Homo sapiens: one gene and its partners. The protein of the gene in region 2 interacts with the protein of the main gene of each other region in a pairwise test. Each region holds a gene or a part of one and is shown on either strand. Other genes may lie near its edges.

What was found.
Region 1: the proteins of RIMS1 (region 2) and MARK3 interact in binary tests that used the Homo sapiens proteins (3 or more experiments, as listed by UniProt).
Region 3: the proteins of RIMS1 (region 2) and SRPK2 interact in binary tests that used the Homo sapiens proteins (3 or more experiments, as listed by UniProt).

The regions. Positions count from the first base shown.
Region 1 is NC_000014.9:103,388,333-103,395,442, forward strand, and holds part of MARK3 (MAP/microtubule affinity-regulating kinase 3), read left to right. Parts: intron 1-7,110. UniProt on the Homo sapiens protein: Serine/threonine-protein kinase. Involved in the specific phosphorylation of microtubule-associated proteins for MAP2 and MAP4. Phosphorylates the microtubule-associated protein MAPT/TAU. Phosphorylates CDC25C on 'Ser-216'.
Region 2 is NC_000006.12:71,882,315-71,889,650, reverse strand, and holds the start of RIMS1 (regulating synaptic membrane exocytosis protein 1), read right to left. Parts: upstream 3,102-7,336; 5' UTR 2,628-3,101; coding exon 2,464-2,627; intron 1-2,463. UniProt on the Homo sapiens protein: Rab effector involved in exocytosis. May act as scaffold protein that regulates neurotransmitter release at the active zone.
Region 3 is NC_000007.14:105,140,841-105,147,950, forward strand, and holds part of SRPK2 (SRSF protein kinase 2), read right to left. Parts: intron 5,819-7,110; coding exon 5,653-5,818; intron 4,469-5,652; coding exon 4,443-4,468; intron 2,491-4,442; coding exon 2,244-2,490; intron 1,651-2,243; coding exon 1,168-1,650; intron 1-1,167. UniProt on the Homo sapiens protein: Serine/arginine-rich protein-specific kinase which specifically phosphorylates its substrates at serine residues located in regions rich in arginine/serine dipeptides, known as RS domains and is involved in the phosphorylation of SR splicing factors and the regulation of splicing.

The DNA of each region.
Region 1 (7,110 bases), on a different chromosome or scaffold from region 2:
ATTGGCATGTTCTGGAAGGAGCTGTGTAGCTTTCACAGTGTGGAGCCCTTGTGTCAGTGTTATAACTCAGGTATAGTCCATATTAATTACCTACATTACTGCACTGCTAAGTATTAGACTTCCTGCCAATTGAGTGGTGAATGTACAAGAATGAATGGGAGCTCTCATTCTGTTGAGAACCTTTTTTCTTAAAGTTAGGTTTGTTGAGATGTAATGTTCATCTGTTTTAAGTATACAGTTTGGTGAATTTTGACAAGCGTATAGTTATGTAACCGCTATCACAATCAAGATGTAGAACACTTCCATTGCCAGAAAGGTCCCTTATGGCCCTGTATAGTCAGTGCCCTCTCCCTTTCTTAGCCCCTGGGTAACCACTGATCTGCTTTCTGTCCCTGTAGTTTTGCCTTTTCTAGGATGCTATGTAAATGGAGTCACAGTGTAAATAATCTTTTGTGTCTTCTTTCACTTAGAGTAGTGCTTTTGAGATTTATTTGAATGTGTATCAGTATCAGTAGTTCATTCCTTTTTATTGCTGAGTAAGTATTTCCTTGTTTGGATGTGCCACAATTTTTTTTAATCCACTCACCAGTGATGGACATTTTTGGCTATTGTGACTAGAACAGTTTTCTTTTAGTATTCTGTAAAAATACTTTTTATTGTGCTTACCCCAGGAATCTTATTTAAATTTTAAGTAATTGTATATAACTGTGATAAGAATGTCGCTTATTAGATCAAGACTAAGAAAAGGCAGGCCGGGTGTGGTGGCTCATACCTGTAATCCCAGCACTTTGAGAGGCTGAGGCTGGCGGATCACGAGGTCAGGAGATCGAGACCATCCTGGCTAACATGGTGAAACCCTGTCTCTACTAAAAATACGAAAAATTAGCCGGGCGTGGTGGCAGGCACCTGTAGTCCTAGCTACTCGGGAGGCTGAGGCAGGAGAATGGCATGAACCTGGGAGGCAGAGCTTGCAGTGAGCCGAGATTGGGCCACCACATTCCAGCCTGGGCGACAGAGCCAGACTCCATCTCAAAAAAAAAAAAAAATTAGCCAGGTGCGGTGGTGCATGCCTGTAATTCCAGCTACTCAGGAGGCTGACGTGGGAGAATCACTTGAACACAAGAGGTGAAGGTTGCAGTGAGCCGATATCATGCCACTGCACTGCAGCCTGAGTGACAGAGTAAGACTCTGTCTCCAAAAAAAAAAAAAAAAAAAAGCAGACAACTTGCAACATTATCTTCATCCTTGTACACTAATTTGTTTTTGTTTGTTTGATTTCCAAATATTAATGTCCACCCTTAGTGAATGGGTATATAAAAGTTTACTGTTGGCCAGGTGCAGTGGCTCACGCCTGTAATCCCAGCACTTTGGGAGGCCGGGGCAGGTGGATCACCTGAGGTCAGGAGTTCGAGACCAGCCTGACCAAGATGGCAAAACCCTGTCTCTACTAAAAATACAAAAATTAGCCGGGTGCGGTGGCGGGCACCTGTAATCCCAGCTACTTGGGAGGCTGAGGCTGGAGAATCGCTTGAACCCTGGAGACGGAGAGTGCAGTGAGCTGAGATCAAGCCATTGCCCTCCAGCCTGGGCGACAGAGGGATACTCCGTCTCAAAAAAAAAAAAAAAAAAAAAAAGGCCGGGCGCGGTGGCTCACACCTGTAATCCCAGCACTCTGGGAGGCCGAGGCGGGCAGATCACGAGGTCAGGAGATCGAGACCATCCTGGCTAACACGGTGAAACCCTGTGTCTACCAAAAATATAAAAAATTAGCCGGGCGTGGTGGCAGGTGCCTGTAGTCCCAGCTACTCGGGAGGCTGAGGCAGGAGAATGGCGTGATCCCGGGAGGCGGAGCTTGCAGTGAGCCAAGATGGCGCCACTGCACTCCAGCCTGGGCGACAGAGTGAGACTCCATCTCAAAAAAAAAGTTCACTGTTGCTGCATCGTGTTATAGCTCAAAAGAACTACTCAATCTGATCCAGTGAGGTTGCTGAGACTCAGAGAGGTGACAAAGGCTGCTAGTAATGACAGAAGACCACTAACTATTTAGTAGCAAAGCCTCTACTGGGCCCCAGATCTCTAGCTTAGGCTCCACAAGGAGATGTAGTTGTACCTGTACATAGAGTATTTCTAAAACTTTTTTTTAAGCTTGTAGATCAGGGGTGTCCAATCTTTTGGCTTCCCCGGGCCACATTGGAAGAATTGTCTTGGGCCACAGATAAAATACACTAACACTAACAATAGCTGATAAGCTTTAAAAAAACTGCAAAAAAAATCTCACAGTGTTTTAACAAAGTTTATGAATTTGTGTTGGGTCACTTTCAAAGCTGTGGTGGGCTGCATGCAGCCCTAGGGCTGTGGGTTGGACAAGCTTGCTGTAGATTTTATTTTGATTTTGAGACAGTATCTCGCTCTGTCACCCAGGCTGGAGTGCAGTGGAGCAATCACAGCTTGCTGTAACCTTGACCTCTTGGGCTCAAGCAATCCTTCCGACTCAGCCTCCTGAGTAGCTGGGACTACAGGCGTGCCCCACCACATGCATGGCTAATTTTTAATTTTTTCGTAGAGATGAGATCTCCCTGTATTGCCCAAGGTGGTCTCTAACTCCTGGGCTCAAGCAGGCCTCCTGTCCCAGCCTCCCAAAGCACTGGAATTACAGGTGTGAGCCACCACACTCAGTCAAAACTATTTTTTAAAATATTTTATTATAGGAAAATTTAAAAAAATAGAATGTTATTTATCAATGCTTCTCAGCCACAGGGTGATTTTGCCCTCTAGTGGACATTTGACAATGTCTAAAGACATCTTTGGTTATCACAGCTGGAGAAAGGTTTGGCTGACCAGGAATGCTACTAAACATTTTACAGTACGTAGGACAGCCTTCCACAGCAAAGAATTACCCGGCCTAAAATGTCAGTAGTGCCAGCGTTGAGAAACCCTGGTATGTACTTAGCCCCCCATGTACTCAACAGCGCAGCTCAGTGGCCAATCTTATTTCATTTATAAATGAAGAAGCAAATGCAGTATCATTTCCTCTCTAAAGCTTTTAGAAGAGATAAAGCCTGTTTTAAGAAAAAAGCAATACTTTTATCATATTTTCTTAATATCAAATATGCAGTATTTAAATTTTCTCACATTTCTAATTTTTAAACTGTTCAAATTAGAATCCAGCTTGAATTCATACATTATAGTTGGCTGATATGTCAAATATGCTTTTTTTTTTTTTTTAATTGAGATGGAGTCTTGCTCTGTCGCCCAGGTTGGAGTGCAGTGGTGCAATCTCGGCTCACTGCCAACCTCTGCCGCCCGGGTTCAAGCGATTGTCGTGCGCAGCCTCCCGAGTAGCTGGGATTACAGGCTCCCGCCACCATGCCTGGCTATTTTTTTTTTTTTTTTTTTTTTTTTTTTAGTAGAGATGGGGTTTCGCCATGTTGGCCAGGCTGTTCTCAAACTCCTGACCTCAGGTGATCCGCCCGCCTTGGCCTCCCAAAGTGCTGGGATTACAGGCGTGAGCCACTGTACCTGGTCAAAATATGCTTTTTAAAGGCAACCAAACAGTTTGCATTTCAGTTTATGTTCTATAGTTATATGGAGCCACGGATACATCCTTTTTCTATACTGGCAAAATGAGAAACATATTTTTCACCTGAATTTCAAAGGATATGACACTTCGTAAGCCTGGTAATGTTATTGGCCAAAGTACCAGAGGCCCAGGGCTTTCCCAGTTATTTAACAGTTACTGATATGTGTGCATCATGTACTTATTATTAGTTAATGCAAATAGTCCCCCAAATTTCTGACCTCTGTGAAACTGATGATGCTGTTGTCTAGTCAGTCATCGGTTATGTGAGACTGAATTAACCTATTCAGCAAGTGTGAATGCCTACCGTGTGTATGATACTGTGCTAGGTGCTGTAGAGGCCATATACCTGGGACACATAGCTTTCCTGCTCTTTAGGATTTCCTGCTCCTTGCAGGACAAAGCAGCCTGAGCTTTATGAAACTAGTCTGTAACTCTCAAACTTAAGCAAACATTAGAATCACCTGAAGGGCTTTAGAACCGTGATCACTGGGCCCTACCCCTAGACCTTGATTTTACCCGTAGAATTGGAATTTCTAACAAGTTGCCAGGTGATGTTGATGCTCCAGGTCCGGGGACCACTCTTAAGAATCACTATAGCAGGAATTTCTGATGTTTATTTATTAAGAAAAAAAAATCACTGCCTTAGTGTGCAGTGAAGGCTTGCTAACTAAACTATACTCCTTTTAGATTGTACTGTGACTATCAAAGGAAGATTTCCAGACCATTTAATTGAGTTTTCAGGTTCCATGAGTTTAAAAAAAACTGTTTATTAAAAATTGTGGTTCTGGAAAATAACAATAGTTGCCATTTGGTGATCACTTAACTGTATACCAGCCAGCAATACTTTGTAGAGTATCTCATTTAAAATATGTAATATGGTTTTATTTAATTAGCTTTTTTTTTTTTTAAATTTCCTGAGGCGGAGTCTCACACTGTTACCTGGGCTGGAGTGCAGTGGCACGATCTCGCTCGCTGCAACCTCCGCCTCCCGGGTTCAAGCGATTCTCCTGCCTCAGCCTCCCAGGTAGCTAGGATTACAGGCAGCCGCCACCACACCCAGCTAATTTTTAAATTTTATTTTATTTTTTGAGACAGAGTTTCACTCTTGTTGCCCGGGCTGGAGTGCAGTGGCATGATCTTGGCTCACTGCAACCTCCGCCTCCTGGCTTCAAGCAATTCTGCCTCAGCCTCCCGAGTAGCTGGGATTACAGGTGCCTGTTACCATGCCCAGCTGATTTTTTTGTATTTTCGGTAGAGACTGGGTTTCACCATGTTGGCAGGCTGATCTGGAACTCCTGACCTCATGATCCTCCCACTTCCCTCCTCGGCCTCCCAAAGTGCTGGAATTACAGGCGTGAGCCACTGTGCCCCGGCTTAATCAGCTTGTCAACTTCTAAGCACAACCTGTTGAATCAAGCTGTTTGGGCCTTATCAGAAAAAAGTTGGCCTATAGTTTCAGCTACTCAGGAGGCTAAGGCCAGAGGATCACTTGAGGCCAGGAGTTCCAGTCGACCTGGACAACATGGTGAAACTATGTATCTTAAGAAAGAAAAAAAAAAGTTGATCTCTGAAGAATTCATGAAAATATTTAGTCAGTTTTCAGGGAAAGATCTTATAGACTTCAATTTGAGCATCCTTATCTTATGTATGTAAATGAGGTAAAGGTTGAAATTTGCAGTAAATAGAATTTTGGTCATTTAAGTTATGTAGCTCATGATATATACATTGTATAACTATTTAGACTTACATGGTGCATGATTTACATTGTAATTACATAGAGGCTTATACAGTCTAATAAAAATTAATATTAACTATTTGATTGCAAAGAGGATTGTTCTGCATTTTATTACTTTTTTTTTTTTTTTGAGACAGAGTTTCACTCTTGTTGCCAGGCTGGAGTGCAATCTCGTGACCTTGGCTCACTGCAACCTCCGCCTGCCAGCCTAAGTAGCTGGGGTTACAGGCACACACCACCATGCCCAGCTAATTTTTTGTATTTTTAGTAGGGATGGGGTTTCACCATGTTAGCCAGGCTGGTCTCAAACTCCTCACCTTGGGTTATCCGCCTGCCTTGGCCTCCCAAAGTGCTGGGATTACAGGCTTGAGCCACTGCGCTCGGCCTGCATTTTATTATTCTAAGATATAGCCAAATTTTATGCCTGGAATTTTTTCCTGGGCTGGAACAAATTCCTAGTAAGAGTCAGGGAATATTCCGTGACTTGTGGCTTTGGTTAAAAAAGAAAAAGGAGTCAGGGAATGCAGTACCCTCTGATCACCACTGGGAGGACTAAAGCAGAAAATTCATTTGTCTCATATCCATTTTCAAATTTCAAATTAAACATGAAGGAGAAAATAAATCTCTTACCTGGGAAGCTTTAATGTCCTGTCTCACACAAGAAGTTAAAGGTTGTGCTTGGAGTTGGTCTGCAAAAGTAATAAGGAATTTGTACTCACCCGTCTGCACCTGCTTGTACAGAACAATTGGAAGGGCAGAAGTTGGCTTTGAAAGAAAAGGCCTTTTTTTGGAGGTGGGAGGGGCATCCAATTTTGTCTTCAGCCGAGAGTTCGCTAGCACTACACTCTAGCCACTCAAGCTGCTCAACTATGGTTGGTCTTGTGTACTTCTGTGTGCACTAGATAAGACATTGTTTCTGTGGGTTATGTGGGACCTTGAAGTTCAGTGTTGAAGCTCAAACAAAGCAGGTGTTTTTTCTGTATTTCTTGTTGACAGGCATTTGCTTTTTGTTGGACCTAAATATTGTGGGGTTTGTGTATGGACATTTGACACAAAAATCTGTATTGGTAGAATTTAATATAAAATCAGAGAAGTTGAATTCACAGGTTTTGTTCATAGAATTTTACATAACTCTAGTCTTTTTTCTTTTTTTGTGATGGAGTCTTGCTCTGTTGCCCAGGCTGGAGTGCAGTGGCATGATCTTGGCTCACTGCAACCTCTGCCTCCTGGGTTCAAGTGATTGTCCTGCCTCAGCCTCCCGAGTAGCTGGGATTACAGGCACCCGCCACCACGCCTGGCTAATTTTTGTATTTTTAGTAGAAACGGGGTTTCACCATGGCCAGGCTGGTCTTGAACTCCTGACCTCAAGTGATCCACCTGCCTCGGCCTCCCAAAGTGCTAGGATTATAGGCATGAGCCACAGCGCCTGGCCACAATCTTACACTACTTTCCTGAAGGGATGTGTGATGGAAAGAGTCTGGGCTTGAAAGTGGAAGACAAAAATGAGAGTCTAAGACTGATCGAGATAAAGATTCTGAAGAGGTAGAATGGACCTCATAAGATGGAGCAAAAAAGAAGGAACAACATATAAAAGGAGAAATTAGAATTTAGAGTTATAGACTGGAATTTGAAACTAGTCTTGAGATTTAACTGTGGACAAATTCACTCGGCTGTGCCTCATGGTTTTTTTTTTTTTAAATCAAAAGAGAATAACATCATTCAAGTTGTGTCTTGGTTTTTTTGTTTGTTTACTTAGATTTTTATGACTTCACTTTCTCAATTTCCTCTGTGGCCA
Region 2 (7,336 bases):
ATTACAGCACTTTTCCACTAATTGCAGACAATATGACATGCTTACATGGCAGCAAACTGGGATTCCAAAACACTCACCAATCTGTCACTGAACAAAAGGCCAAGACATTAGCAGAGGAGGCTGATGGATAAAGTTAATACAGAGGTCCAGGATTATAGAGAGCTGTTGTATAACAGCATCATATACAGTGATATTTTGTGAATCCATGCAACAAAGGAACAATATATGCAAGCCAGTAGAAAGCAGTCACAGGAAAAGCAGCGGAAAAGATGTGTTAGACATGAGCAGTTGGACAGTGCTCCTAATTTTTATTTGCCCATATAAGCCCATACAATCTTATAATTGCTGTCCTTTGGCAGTTAGCAGGTTTGGAATTCTGTCCTAAAACTCACCCACTCCCACTTAAAATCCCTCACTCTCCACCATGCTTGAGACAGCCAATGAAGAGGCATGATGGCCACTACTTGCACCGTGCCTTCCCCTTCCTATCCGGACTCTGGCAAGCAGCAGCCTATATTTTCCACTAGCTACTGGAGGCCTCCATCCACCTGCTGTCTGCAGCAAACAGCAAAAGGAACAGCAGCAAACCTGTAAATCCTGACAAGCCGAAAAGGTGTTCAGGACAGGTGGCAGGGGCTGTAACCAGTGAGTACAGACGGACTGACAACCAGACAGACAGACAGCAGCACTATCAGACACCATCCATTACTTCCAGTCTCAGAAGAGGGGAAGCCTGCAGCACCAGGGACGTCATTCTTCCACTAGGGACAGGCAGCAGATTAACGAGGGTTCTGCCTCCCTCAAGCCGGCAGGCTTAAAGTATTTGATTTTTGGATGAGAAGGAGCAGGGAATTCAGAAACCTGCTGCTCTTTATAGAACCAGGCCAGCTCTGGCCTTCGGAGTTAATGGCCCTTTTCTGAATCTACAATGAAAGAACAGGAATGACTGGATTTCTACTATTTTGCTGTGACCTAACAGCCACATCTCTCCCTCAGTATCCCCCTCCCCTATCTGAGTGTCAGTTGCCCTGGTTGGGGAACCATCGGTCTGTGAATGCAGCCTCCCTCCATTCCTCTCCTATGAGGCACTGCTGCACTGAGGGGAAGCAGAAGAAATCTTCTTCGGCAGCATCTTCTCTCGAGGAGGCACTTCTAGGGGGTGGGGGAGAGGCCATGCAGAATGTGCTCTGTGTCTGGGTTTCACCCCTGCTCCCTCCCCACCCCTCTTTTGCTATCAGGTAACTCCAGATGCAACAGGTTCCTTTTGGCTCTTCATGCCAATCCCCTGGCCCCAGATACACCTTCCAGCCTAAGCAGGGGACACCAAGGAGTCAGTCACAGTCAGGGCCCCTACATTCCCCTGCTTCAGAGTGAAAACTTTCCTGAATACATGAAGACTTCCCAAGAAAAGGCAGGGTTGAAGCCTCCTTCAGCTCTACTCTATGGGTGATGCTAAGCAAGGAAAGCCCCGTCTCTCTGCCAGTCCCTTGTAAGCAGTTTTGTCTGAGGCAAGCAGCAGCACAGTGTCACACACTCCTGCACCACCAGCAAGTAGTCCCATCTTCTCCCCATCACCAGGAAAATGGGGCATCAGACAGAAATCCCTTGAAGGGTTGATGCGCTCTAAAGAAGTGAGGAGGAGTGCAAATTCCCAATCCCTTATTGGACTGTTTCCTCCAGGAACTGAACAGGCCCCAGAGGTCTCTTGGAAACCACTAAAGAGGAACCTCTATGTTATTCAGGCCAGAGTCCCTGTCAGCTTCTCCCATGATTAAAAACTTTGTATTGCCAGTGGCATTACATATGGAGAAGAGAATCTGTCTTCACACAGGTATGCTGTGTAGAAGACTCTGAATAAAAGGTTAAAGAGAAGCTGGGGAGGCAGGTTACCAAAGATGGCAATTGCCCAAAAAAAGACCCAACCTTGATCTGTGAGATGAATGATTACTAAAATGAACACTAAAAATAAGCATTTTTATTATATAAATATAGGCAGCCTTCACTGGGGTAACCCCGACCAGCTAAACAACTCCAAGAAGAGAAGAGGAGCTGTCCTCAGCACCTCTTCATCCTGCCTCCCCTTGTTTCTACTCATCCCCTGCCCCCTAACCTGCTCCCAGCCCAGGGACCTTCCACTTGGGTGGGATCAGCACCTCTCAGCTTCTGCACTTCCCACCACGAGCGTGGCCCCCGTCCACCCATCCCTCCTCTGCACCCCAGTCTCAAGTCATCCTCCCCCGGCCTTTGGGTTCCTGGATCTGTGGCATATCCCCTCCCTCCTCCGGTCCCCTGACCTCTTCCCTGCTCAAGCCCCGCGCCCCTGGCCCAAGGCGGGCGCCTCCGTCCGCACCCAGCACCCTGGCAGCCCCTTCCCCACACTCAGCCGCGAGGACTAGGGGAGTGAGTGGTGAATGGACGGATGGAGGCACGGAGGCATGGATGGCGCGGCTGGGGCTGGCTTACTTGAGCATGGCTTCTTCTTTTTCCTCCTCTTCCTTCTGCCGGTCCATCACTGCCATGATAATGTTCCTCTCCTCTTCGGTCAGGTGGCTCAGGTCGGGCAGCTCTTGCATGGGGGGAGGCACCGTGGGTGGGCGAGGACCGCGGGGCCCCACGGCCGAGGACATTTTCGTGGCCTGCCCGCCCCCTCTGCTCGCTCTCTGGCTCTCACCTTTCGGATGCACGCCCAGCAGCTGCGCCCCTGCTTCCCCCTCACAGCGGAGCCCTAGCGGCGGCGGCAGGAGGAGGAGCAGCGGCGGCGGCGGCAGCAGCAGCAGCAGCAGAGCCGGGGAGAGCGAGAACCCAGTCTTTCATGGTTGTTTGCATCCACCCAGCCCCGGATGCTGCCTTTGTTTTGGTCGCCCTAGCGAAGCTCGGGGCCGCCCGGCCGCCTCCCGCAGCCCAGCCTCGGCCGGCGGGGGCGGGCAGGCGGAGGCGCGGCGGGAGAGGCGAGGGGGCGAGGGCTCGCGCCAGGCTCCGCCGATCCGGGCGTCTCCGGCGGGGCGCGGGGCGGGGGCGGGGCTGGGGCTGGGGCTGGGGCTGGGACTGGGGCGGCCGCTGCCGCCGTGGAGGCTGCTCCCAGGCTCTGCTGCCTCCAATTTGGGGCTGCGGGAGGGAGAGGGAGAGTTTGGGTGTCAGTTAGGCGGAGTCTCAGAGGCTTCCATCCAGGGTGATGCCGCTGCTCTCGCAGACATAGCTGCCAGCCACTCAGTCCCGGCGCCGCTCCGCCCACGGGCACCCACCCGCCCACTCCCCGGGTCCGAGCCACGCGTGCCCCGGCCGCTACCCCTACAGTCGCCAACGTGCACAGCACCTCGCTCTATCCCCAGGTACCCCTCACCCATGAGTCATCCTCCCTCTTCTGGTCCCTCGCCTATGTCATCCTCCCCAGCCCTATTTTGCATGGGTCGCATTAATCATCATCATCCTCGCTACCATCTTCATCATAGAGCATTAATATTATTTGAGCAACCACAATGTTCTGAACAGCAGAATGGAACACCCTGTGGATACATTTTCTTTTTCCTCCCTGCCACCGTGTCTTTCTTATTTACTAGTTAAGTGTTCACAGCCACAACAATGTGATTTTTTGGATGCTTTTGATACACACACACACACACACACACACACACACACACACACACACATCCTCCAACAGCCTGGATTTTCTGGGTATATTGTACTCATCAATGCAGTGTCTTTCTTGACCCGTCCTCGCTAGGACTGTTCTGCAGTGTATCAAGATGCCCCACAACACGGTAAATCTTTAATTTGTGTTTTTTGGCTCTAGGTAGCCCCATCACATCACATAACTGCTCTCTGGTGCTTACACATGAGTTATCTACTCTAATTCCTCTAATGATGTTCGCTATCATCATACTCACTCACATGTAGTTCAGAGTATCTCTGTAGGTACTTCCCAAGAAACACTGATCCCAGATAAGAAAAACACTCAACCATATCCTATTGTATTTAAGAAGCTTCTGCTAATGCCTAGCCCAATGATAGGCATTAAGGATGAGCTTCTCTTGCTGATAAAGGCAGAAATAAATAGGCAATCTTTTCAAAATAGGTAATGTTATCAGCTTTGAAACCTGGAGACTGAATTTTCTTGATATAATTATAAAAGAATCAATATAGAAAAGGGTTTAAATTGAACAACAATTTCCTAGTCAAGACTCCTTAGCAATGATGATGAGAGAATTGATATGTTTCTCTCCTAGGCTATTTTTTTAACTTAATTTAACTTAAAGTTCTGGAGTACATGTGCTGGATGTGGAGGGTTGTTACATAGGTAAACATGTGTCATGGTGGTTTGCTGCACCTATCAACCCATCACCTAGGTATTAAGCCCCATATACATTAGCTATTTGTCCTGATTCTCTCCCTGTGCCCCACCACAGGCCCCAGTGTGTGGTGTTCCTCTCCCTGTGTCCGGGTGTTCTCATTGTTGAACTCCCATTTATAAGTGGGAACATGGTGTTTGATTTTCTGTTCCTGTGTTAGTTTGCTGAGAATAATGGCTTCCAGCTCAAACCACGTCCCTGCAAAGGACATGATCTCATTCTTTTTTATGGCTGAATAGTGTTCCATGGTGTGTATATGTACTACATTTTCTTTATCCAGTCTATCATTGACAGGCATTTGGGTTGATTCCATGTCTTTGCTATTGTGAATAGTGCTGCAATGAACATCCATGTGCATGTATCTTTATAATGATTTATATTCCTTTGGGCATATACCCAGTGATGGGATTGCTGGGTTAAATGGTATTTCTGGTTCTAGGTCTTTGAGGACTCGCCACACTGTCTTCCACAATGACTGAACTAATTTACATTCCCACCAACAGTGTAAAAGTGTTCCTATTTCTCCACAGCCTCACCAGCATTTGTTGTATCTTGACTTTTAATGATAGCCATTCTGACTGGCATGAGATGGTATCTCATTGTGATTTTGATTTGCATTTCTTTAAGGATGTGATGTTGAACTTTTTTTCATATGTTTGTTGCCTGCATAAATGTCTTCTTTTGAGAAGTGTCTATTCATGTCCTTTGCCCACTTTTTAGTGGGGTTGTTTGTTATTTTTCTTGTAAATTTATTTAAGTTCCTTGTAGATTCTGGATATTAGACCTTTGTCAGGAGGATGGATTGCAAAAATTTTCTCTCATTCTGTAGGTTGTCTGTTCACCTTGATGATAGTTTATTTTGCTGTTTAGAATAGCTCCAGAAGGAAGTCAGCACTCATTTTTTTTCCTCCAAGCCTAACTTTGTTAATGGAGAAGAAAATGACTAGGATGATGATATTTATTAATCTTAAAATCTTCAAGTTTAAGGAACTTAAGACTTTAGTTGATTTCCCATAAAATGCAGGAGTTGCTTCTACATGGACACATCTATTTGAATACTTTCAGTAGTGGAAGGTTCACTTCCTCTGAATTCCATTGCTACATCTAACTCCCTCTTCTTACTGGAAACCTTTCAAATATTTGACACAGTTATCATGTCCTCTTCAATCTTCTCCAGAGTAAATCTTCACAGTTTATCCAACCAGTATAGCCTCATTTTAAAGACTGATCATTTGGTCATCTGCCTTTGAAGACACTTAAATTTTTTTCACTAGCCTTCCAGAATATGTATCAAGAATATGTGTAACCAAGAACAGTGCCTGACATTTAGTGAATGCCCAATAACGCAGTATAGTCATTATTTTTATTTGTGTAACTTAATATTGCTCTAACTTTTTGATGGCCATATCACTTATAAGAATGTCACTGAAATAAACATGTAGTCCACTAAAAGTTTCAGTTATTTTTCATAAGCTCTGCTGTACAGCCAGATTTCCCCTTTCCTATAATTAAGCAATCATTGACATTTTATGATTTTATGATCTTGGCCAAATCACTTAACCTCTCTGAACTCTGTTTCTTCATCTGCAAAATGGGGATAAAGATATTTATCTCACAATAGAAGAAAAGTATTAAATAAGAAGACGTGTGAAGCATCTAACTATGGGCTTAACACTTTGTAGTTCTCTTTTTCTTATTTCTTTCTCTTTCCAAGAGATGTATTAGGTCATCCCTCAATTATTAATATACAGAAGGAAGTAGAAATGTAGATGACATATTTGTTCTACCAGATGCTTTTCTCTCTGTCAGTCAGTCAGGAAATGCAGCGATACAATGGACAAATTCCCTGTTCTCAAGAGGTTTACAATCTAGTTGGTTCTAATAAAATTCTTCTAAAATACAAGTAAAGGAATTATAAAGCTTCAGTAGACATTAGAACTAGCTGAGGAAAGCTCTTGAAGTCAAGGACCTAATGAACAAGTAACAGCAGTGCTTTAATTTGCTCCAATTGTCATTACAAAATACCACAGACCGGGTAGCTTAAATAACAGAAATTATTATTCTCTCCCAGTTCTGGAGGCTAGAAATCCAAGATCTAGGTGTCAACAGGTTTGATTTCTCCCAAGGCCTCTCTCTTACTTAGGCTTGTTTTGGCCACCTTCTTGCTGTGTCCTCACATGGCCTTTCATCTGTGCACATGCATCCCTGGTGTCTCTCCCTCTACTTATAAGGGCACTAGTTTTATTGGATTAGGGACCCTCCTTTATTTAACCTTAATTATCTCTTTAATGTGGACCCTATCTCCAAATGCAGTCACATGCTAAGGTACTGGAGGATAGGACTCAGACATATGAATTTGAGAGGGATACAATTCAGTCCATAATATGTGGTTTCCATTCATTAAAATTACTGTAAGAAATGATGATTGATGTGTATTATCTGGATAACTTAATGAAGAGAAATCTATGTCTCAGTCATCTTTATAGTTATTTCCCTGGGCTCCATGTGTCTTTGTGAAATAAATGAGTGCATAAATGAATGAGTAAATGAGTAAATTAGTAGAGCCTTGATTCAGCCCATCAGTGTCTCCTCTTCTATCAGGAATCTCATCCATTACAGAGGGGTTCAGAACCAATTTCTAAAACCCAAGAGAAGTGTCTTCACAGATTTACCTCCAGAAAAAGAGAACTTATCTGCACTTAGATAAGTGAGCAAATACCCAAAGTAGGTGTGCCAAAGTGTGTAGCACAGATTAGTTTCTGAAAATGCTCAATCAGTGTGGAAAAATGTTCATAATACCTCTCTCTTACACCTTAATAAATAAAAACAATGCTAACAAGCAAGTATTCACTGCAGGAAAGAAATCTGTCTTACCTGGTTTGGTTTGGCATTTCCCAAATGGATTAGACCATAGAATTATGTTCTTCCCTGATGGAGGAAACACGCTTTAGACAAGCTTTGGGAAAAACCTTGAGTTACAGGCCTAGTAT
Region 3 (7,110 bases), on a different chromosome or scaffold from region 2:
ATCCCAGCTACTCAGGAGGCTGGGGCGGGAGAATCGCTTGAACCCGGGAGGCAGAGGTTGCAGTGAGCCGAGATCGCGCCACTGCACTACAGCCTGGGTGACAGAGCAAGACTCAATCTCATAAAAAAAAAAAGAAACTTCAAGTAAGAGAAAAATTGAACTGCAACAGCAACAATAAGTCTGGATAAGGTACCTCTCACTACTGCCCTTTCCCAGAAATTAACCTACATTCTATGTAAGCACCTTCAAACACTCCCTGGAAAGGGGAACAGGAGCTGACCACGTCCAGCCAAGTAAAGAAAGCAAATCCTTAGGAGGATTCATCATAGCCAGTGCGTAACAAAGCCAGCTTACTCGGCGTGCAATTCCAGACTGCTGGAACCAAAGGGGCTGCAGAATGTCGGGCTGTTTGCAGGGCTGGCTCATCAATTTTACTCGCTGTGTGTTAAACAGTCTTGTCAGTAGAGGGAGCAGAGGGAGGTTTCAGAGCTTTTCCCCCATAAGCCAGTATGGAAACCAGCTGTGTTACCCAGTTTTCACTTACTAGAGTCACTTGGCATTCACTCCCAAAATAAGGCTTTGAATAAGTCAAGCCTTCTTAGGTAGACAAGAACACAAGAGCCAATCTATAATCTGTCATCACATTTAAATCCATGCCAATTCCTTGAAAATTACAATCCTGGGCCAGTTACCAATAGTAGGGTCCTATAATCAGGAACAACTATCAAAAGACAATATGACACTTCTTTCTCAATAGAGTCAAAGAGGAGGCATAATTTTCTTGAATAGAAACAAAACAAAACTAAACTAAACTAAATATAATGACATTAGATGGAAGAAGATACGAATTTTAAACTAAACTACACATTCTAGAAAGGTGTAAGTTGCTAAAACTGGAAGGTTTTTGCAAATGATGCTGCTGACTAAATATATTAAAAATGAAAACTGGTCAGAAATAAGATTTGGTATGCAGAGAGCAAGAAATAGCCTAATGGCATAGAAAATTTATTTAAATCACATTACTTCTTCAGGAGTATAAAAGTAATAAAACTGATCAGTACACACACACAGGGCTTGGCCACTTCCAGCCAATTCCTTCACAGCATTTGTTAAAGGCACGTCCCTGGAGTCAGCGATGGCAGACAGTTGATGGGAAGAAACACTTACCTTTTGGCAAATCCCCAGTACTGGAGGCTGAAACCGTTCTGCTTCTGTCATGGGATGGACTGCTCTCCTCTTGCTCAGTAAGTGGTGATCCCTCAGAAAGCACAGAGCCGCAGGCCACAGGTTCTAAGGATCCAGAGAACAACGAGGTGGAAAACTCTGGGAACTGTGACTCGGGAATTTTATGTCGTCCATTTGGCAATTCACCATTGAATTGTTCATAGGAGCTGCTATATGTGTAATCACTTTCTGCATTTGGCTCATCAAGATTATATTCCTCAGGATTTGGGCAGTCTTCTTCATCATCATCTTCATCGTCCAGTTGCTGCTCCAGTGAGAATGGGCCATTCTCAATATGGCCATTGGTTTTAGGTGATTCTATCCACGTAGGGTCTATGTTCGCAAGTTCCTGATCTACATCATCTTCATCTTTTTCAATGTTTTCTTTCTCAGCATCTTCTTTCTCTTCCTGGTCCTCAGCTTCACCTTAAGAATTTGATGGGTCAAGAATTAGAACTTGTTACTCTCCTTAATACAGCCTCATTAAGTACTTATCTCCATCAATAAAATACATTTTGAATATGCTTATGTACCACCTGGTAAACACCTCTTGGCTTTTGGGGTAAAACCTTCAGGTTTTCTAAATCTCATTTTTCATTCATTTAGTAATTGGCCTGCTCTTATAAGAAAAAGTTAGCTTTAAGGGAAAATAACTCTTTCTAAATAAAGTTGCACTTCCATTTCTACCCTCTATAATCTTCAGAAACAGACTTGTGGTGCATTACAGTTAGGTAAAAAGTTAATGACAAAATAAAGCACCATCATTAGCATGATAGAAACATGGAATTTCTCAATTATTTTACATTTTTAAAAACTATTTTGAAATGTTAACATATTTCTGGCATACAGTTCACAAATGAAGTACGAGGCTATTTCCCATATTTCCCAATAGGGAGTTGGAGAGAATCATCCTTGTCATCTGCAGCAGCAGCACAAATCAGCCCCCATGTTGACCTGGCAGAACCCTACTAATGGAGCTCTGAGAACCCCATGCAGCCCAGGTTCCAGGCCCCACTGACCATTGTCCTTTGCAGTCTCTGCCTCAGCCGCCTCCTCTAATCCTGTTGTTTTTAGTTTCACCTCTGGGCAGTATTCGCCATCCTGGTCATTGGAAGGTGCAGCTGAGGTGATGTTTTCTTCTATTATTTTCCTTTCAGCTTCTCGCTCCAATTCTTCTATCTCCTGCAGGCGCTTCTCCAATAACTCAGCCTGCCTCTTCTGTTTCTTTTTCAGTTTTTTCTTTTTGTTTTTAGATATTTTTCCTATCTATGTTAAGGAAAGACCACAGGTCAGTATTCTTCTTTTTAAAGCACCACGATAGTATAACGACTAGCAGCATGGCAAATAGCAATAAACTCTGCTTTCTCATGCCATATTCTATTAAAATCCCAAACCCAGACAGATCCACTTTGTGGTAAGGCTTACGATAAAATCAAAGGGAAAGCAGTGCTGACTGATATCACGTACTAGGTCTACTACCAGGTCCTGCCCTCAGAGGGATATAGCTTAAATCCAGTAAGTCTTCACCATTCAAACTCTAAGAGAACTGAAGTTCGAAATTCTCTTGGCCTTAAAGGAGAAGCTCCTCTTGCAAGTTTTATTTGCTGCTGTCTATATACAAAGTAACAACATCCCAGCTCCTCAATGCCAAAAATGAAACAGGTGCCCGAGCAGGTGTATGTCACTGTGTGTTTGGGTCTCACATATGAAGCTCTTAGCAGCCAAGACAACATGAACTGTAAGAGATAAGCCTATGCTGCAAAGGGAAAAAAGAAAAAGCTACAGCTTTTGTCTGCCTCCCGTCATGGTTACCTGACTTGCAAAGCACTGGCAATGACAGCCTCCAACCTTTCAATCAATCAGTAAATTCAAGCAGCTCAAGCCAGGGAAGAACTATGGGAAACAACTTGAGCTTCTCAGCAGGCCAGGAAGCTTAATTATTAAAGCTCCCTCTTGTTCCAGAACTTACATTCCAAATCAAGAGCTGTCTCAGTAAAAATAGTGTTTTGTTGTTGTTGTTGTTGTTTTCTTTGAGACAGAGTCTCTGTTGCCCAGGCTGGAGTGCAGTGGCGTGATCTCAGCTGACTGCAACCTCCACTTCTTGAGTTCAAGTGATTCTCATGCCTCAGCCTCCCATGTAGCTAGGACTACAGGTGCACACCATCACACCCGGCTAATTTTTTTTTTTTTTTTTGAGATGGAGTCTCACTCTGTCGCCCAGGCTGGAGTGCAGTGGCGTGATCTCAGCTCACTGCAACCGTTACCTCCTGGGCTCAAGTGATTCTACTGCCTTAGCCTCCTGAGTAGCCGGGATTACAGACGTCCACCAGCACACTCAGCTAGTTTTTGCATTTTTGGTAGAGACAGGATTTCACCATGTTGGCCAGGCTGGTCTTGAATTCCTGACTTCAAGTGATCTAGTGGCCTCAGCCTCCCAAAGTGCAGGGATTACAGGCGTGAGTCACCACACCCAGTATCTAATAAGGACATAGTGTTTTGACAGGACCACAAAATAGATCAGTCTCTTTCTTATTTAACATCCGCATGGAAAAAATTAGAACAACAGCTTCAGAAAAACAGGTAACTTAGCAGCCAATCAGAAATAATGTAAAGTGGTTTTGAAATAAAAATACTTCAACTCCATCACCTCACATTTCACTAAACTTGGCCACCATAGTCCAGAAAATGCATAAAGAAGACAATTTTTGAAAGGCTCTAACTATCCCAACTCTGCACAGATCATTAAAACTTAACAAGACAGGCTGGGCGTGGTGGTTCAAACCTGTAATCCCAGAAATTTGGGAGGCCGAGGCAGGCAGATAACTTGAGGTTAAGAGTTCGAGACCAGTCTGGCCAACATGGTGAAACCCCTCTCTACTAAAAATACAAAAATTAGTTGGGTGCGGTGGCAGGTGCCTGTAATCCCAGCTACTCGGGAGGCTGAGGCACAAGAATCGTTTGAACCAGGGAGGGGGAGGTTGCAGTGAGCCGAGATCGCACCACTTGCACTCCAGCCTGAGCAACAGAGTGAAACTCAGTTTTCAAAAAAAAAAAAAAAAAAAATTAACAAGACATTAAGTCTTACCTATTTGAGGATACACAGCTTTTATAAATGTGTCTACCCTTTAAATACACAACTTTTTTATAATTTGAACAACTCAATAATAAACGGTCTCTTTTAACATGGTGCATATAAAGTAATATGCGTAAGTACTTACAGGTTTCTGCTGTGGAGCCGTACTCACTAAAATAAAATCAAACAAAATCTGTATTTAGCAGAAAACAGACACATGCCTTCATGTAGGTCATTCGAATTGCAAAGTGAAATAATTATTGTCTTTTAATGGCTATCCAACTTCAAAAACTATTAATCAGAGCTTCTTAATCACAAGGATCTAGAGTAAGTTTATGCCACTGAAACAAATGAGTGACTCCTGAAGTCACAGCAGAAGTTACTCATACTGAGCCATTTCTCTTATTTATCTAAAATGAAATACTAATACATCTCAAACACAGTCAAGCTCAAGCACCAACAGATCACTTAAGAAAATGGAAAAGAATACATATCACAGTCATTAAACCAAATTTGTTTAAAATATAATGAAATGAACAATGTAGATGTACATCGATATTTGGAATCTATTTTGCAAGCTTTCTATAATTTAAATCAAATACTGCAGTTGGTATGCAGCAAATAGTCTAGGAATCACATGATTAAACCCCTACACCAGGGTCAAAAGCTTAACAGGCTGGGTCCATGATCTAAACAACACCCTGATGGCAGTAAAGGAGATGTGAAGAGAGCCCCAGGCAGTCCCAGGAGCCTCAGCCCTTTAGTATCCATGCTTGCCTGACAACACACAAAGGCACAGATCATGGTGTCGAAGAGTGAGAAGCACAGTCCACACTTCACTGCACCACCTCCCCGACCCCGCCCCAGAAATAAAGATATCCCAATACTCAGGTCACTTGATCTTCTTCCCCCACCATCAGGCCTTTTCTAACTAACTCCAAATCTGTTGATACAACTCAGGTTGACATAGCTATGCTAAATGGACAACAAGAATTTATGTACACAAAATTGAAGCCAGAAAAATATTCTGATGACTAAAGGTCAGCTACAGGAAAGCTGTTACTATGTTCTCCTCTGCAGAGAAGCTGGCAACAGAAAAAACTGTTCAAATATAGATGAAGCAGCAACTACAAATTTAAATGGCCTTTTAAAGGGGGACAAAAGTAAATACTTCCAATATTAAAATATAATGTAGCTGGGGCATTTTCCATTTCAAGGGTGCAGTTATTTCCAGCAATTAAACTTTTCCAAAATCTTCCTTATGTGTAACGTTTGATTCAGATACCTTCAACAACTGCAACTTTGCAAGCTCCCAATGCCCCCACACTGAAATGAAGCTGGCTCAGCTCCCTCACCTGCAGACCCTGAAGGAGGAGGAGCACCTGCTTTCTGCCACTCAGTGGCCTCAGCTGCCATTCTTCTCACATATGCATCATCCACACACATCAAGATATTTTCCGGCTTTATGTCAGTATGAATGATCTTGCACTTACTGTGTAAGTAATCTAACCCTTGAAGGACCTGGATATAGTAAAATCAAGAGAGAAGATAAGCTATTAATATCTCATTATATAACTTTTATTTATTTGAAAAACATGTAATACAATGCCAGGGTACAAAGTTTGATAAACACAAAAGGATATTTAGTAAAAATCTCCCTCCCATGCCTACCCACATTGGAATCCAGCTCTCCTTTCCATAAGCAACCAGTGTGTATAATTTCAGAGATTATTTATGCTCGTGGAAGCAAATGCATCTACATACAGTTGAACCTTGAACAACACAGGTTTGAACTGCATGGGTTCCCTTATACACAGATTGTCTTCCACCTCTGCCACTCCTGAGACAGCAAGACCAACCCCTCAGCCTACTCAACGCGAAGATAATGAGGATGAAGACCTTTATGATCATCTACTTCATATGATCTATCCACTTAATGAATAGTAAGTATATTTTCTCTTCTTTATGATTGTCTTAACATTCTTTTCTCTAGCTTACTTTGTTGTAAAAATATGCTATATAACACACATACAAAATACATGTTAATTGGTCATGTGATCATTAAGGATTCTGATCAACAGTAGGCTAGTAATTCATGTATCATACAATTGACCCCTTTAGGTATACAATTCAATGGATTTTAGATGTGCGACTATCATTACTATTTATTTTTTAAATTTTTTATGTATTTATTTTTTGAGACAGAGTCTCGCTCTGTCACCCAGGCTGGAGTGCAGTGGCACAATCTTGGCTCACTGCAACCTCCGCCTCCCAGGTTCAAGCAATTCTCCTGCCTCAGCCTCCCAAGCAGCTGGGATTACAGGCGTATGCCACCACGCCTGGCTAATTTTTTTTGTATTTTTAGTAGAGACGGGGTTTTACCATATTGGCCAGTGGTCTCGAACTCCTGACCTTGTGATCCACCTGTCTCGACCTCCCAAAGTACTGGGATTACAGGCGTGAGCCACCACACACGGCAACTACCACCACTATTTAAATGACAACATTTTCATTGCTCCAAAAAGAAACAACATATTCATCAGCATTCACTTCCCATCTCTCTCCTACCCCTTCTAACCCTTAGCAACCACTAATCTACTTGCTGATTCTGGACATTTCCTATAAATGGAATCATATAAAGTATTTTTTTGTAACTGGCATAATGTTTTCAAGTTTGACTCTTGTGCAGCATGTATTAGTACTTCGCTTATTCTTATTGGCAAACAGTATTCCACTGTATGGAGATACAACATTGTGTTTATCCCTTCACCTCATGAACATTTGGGTTATTTTCACTTTAGGGGCTATAAAAA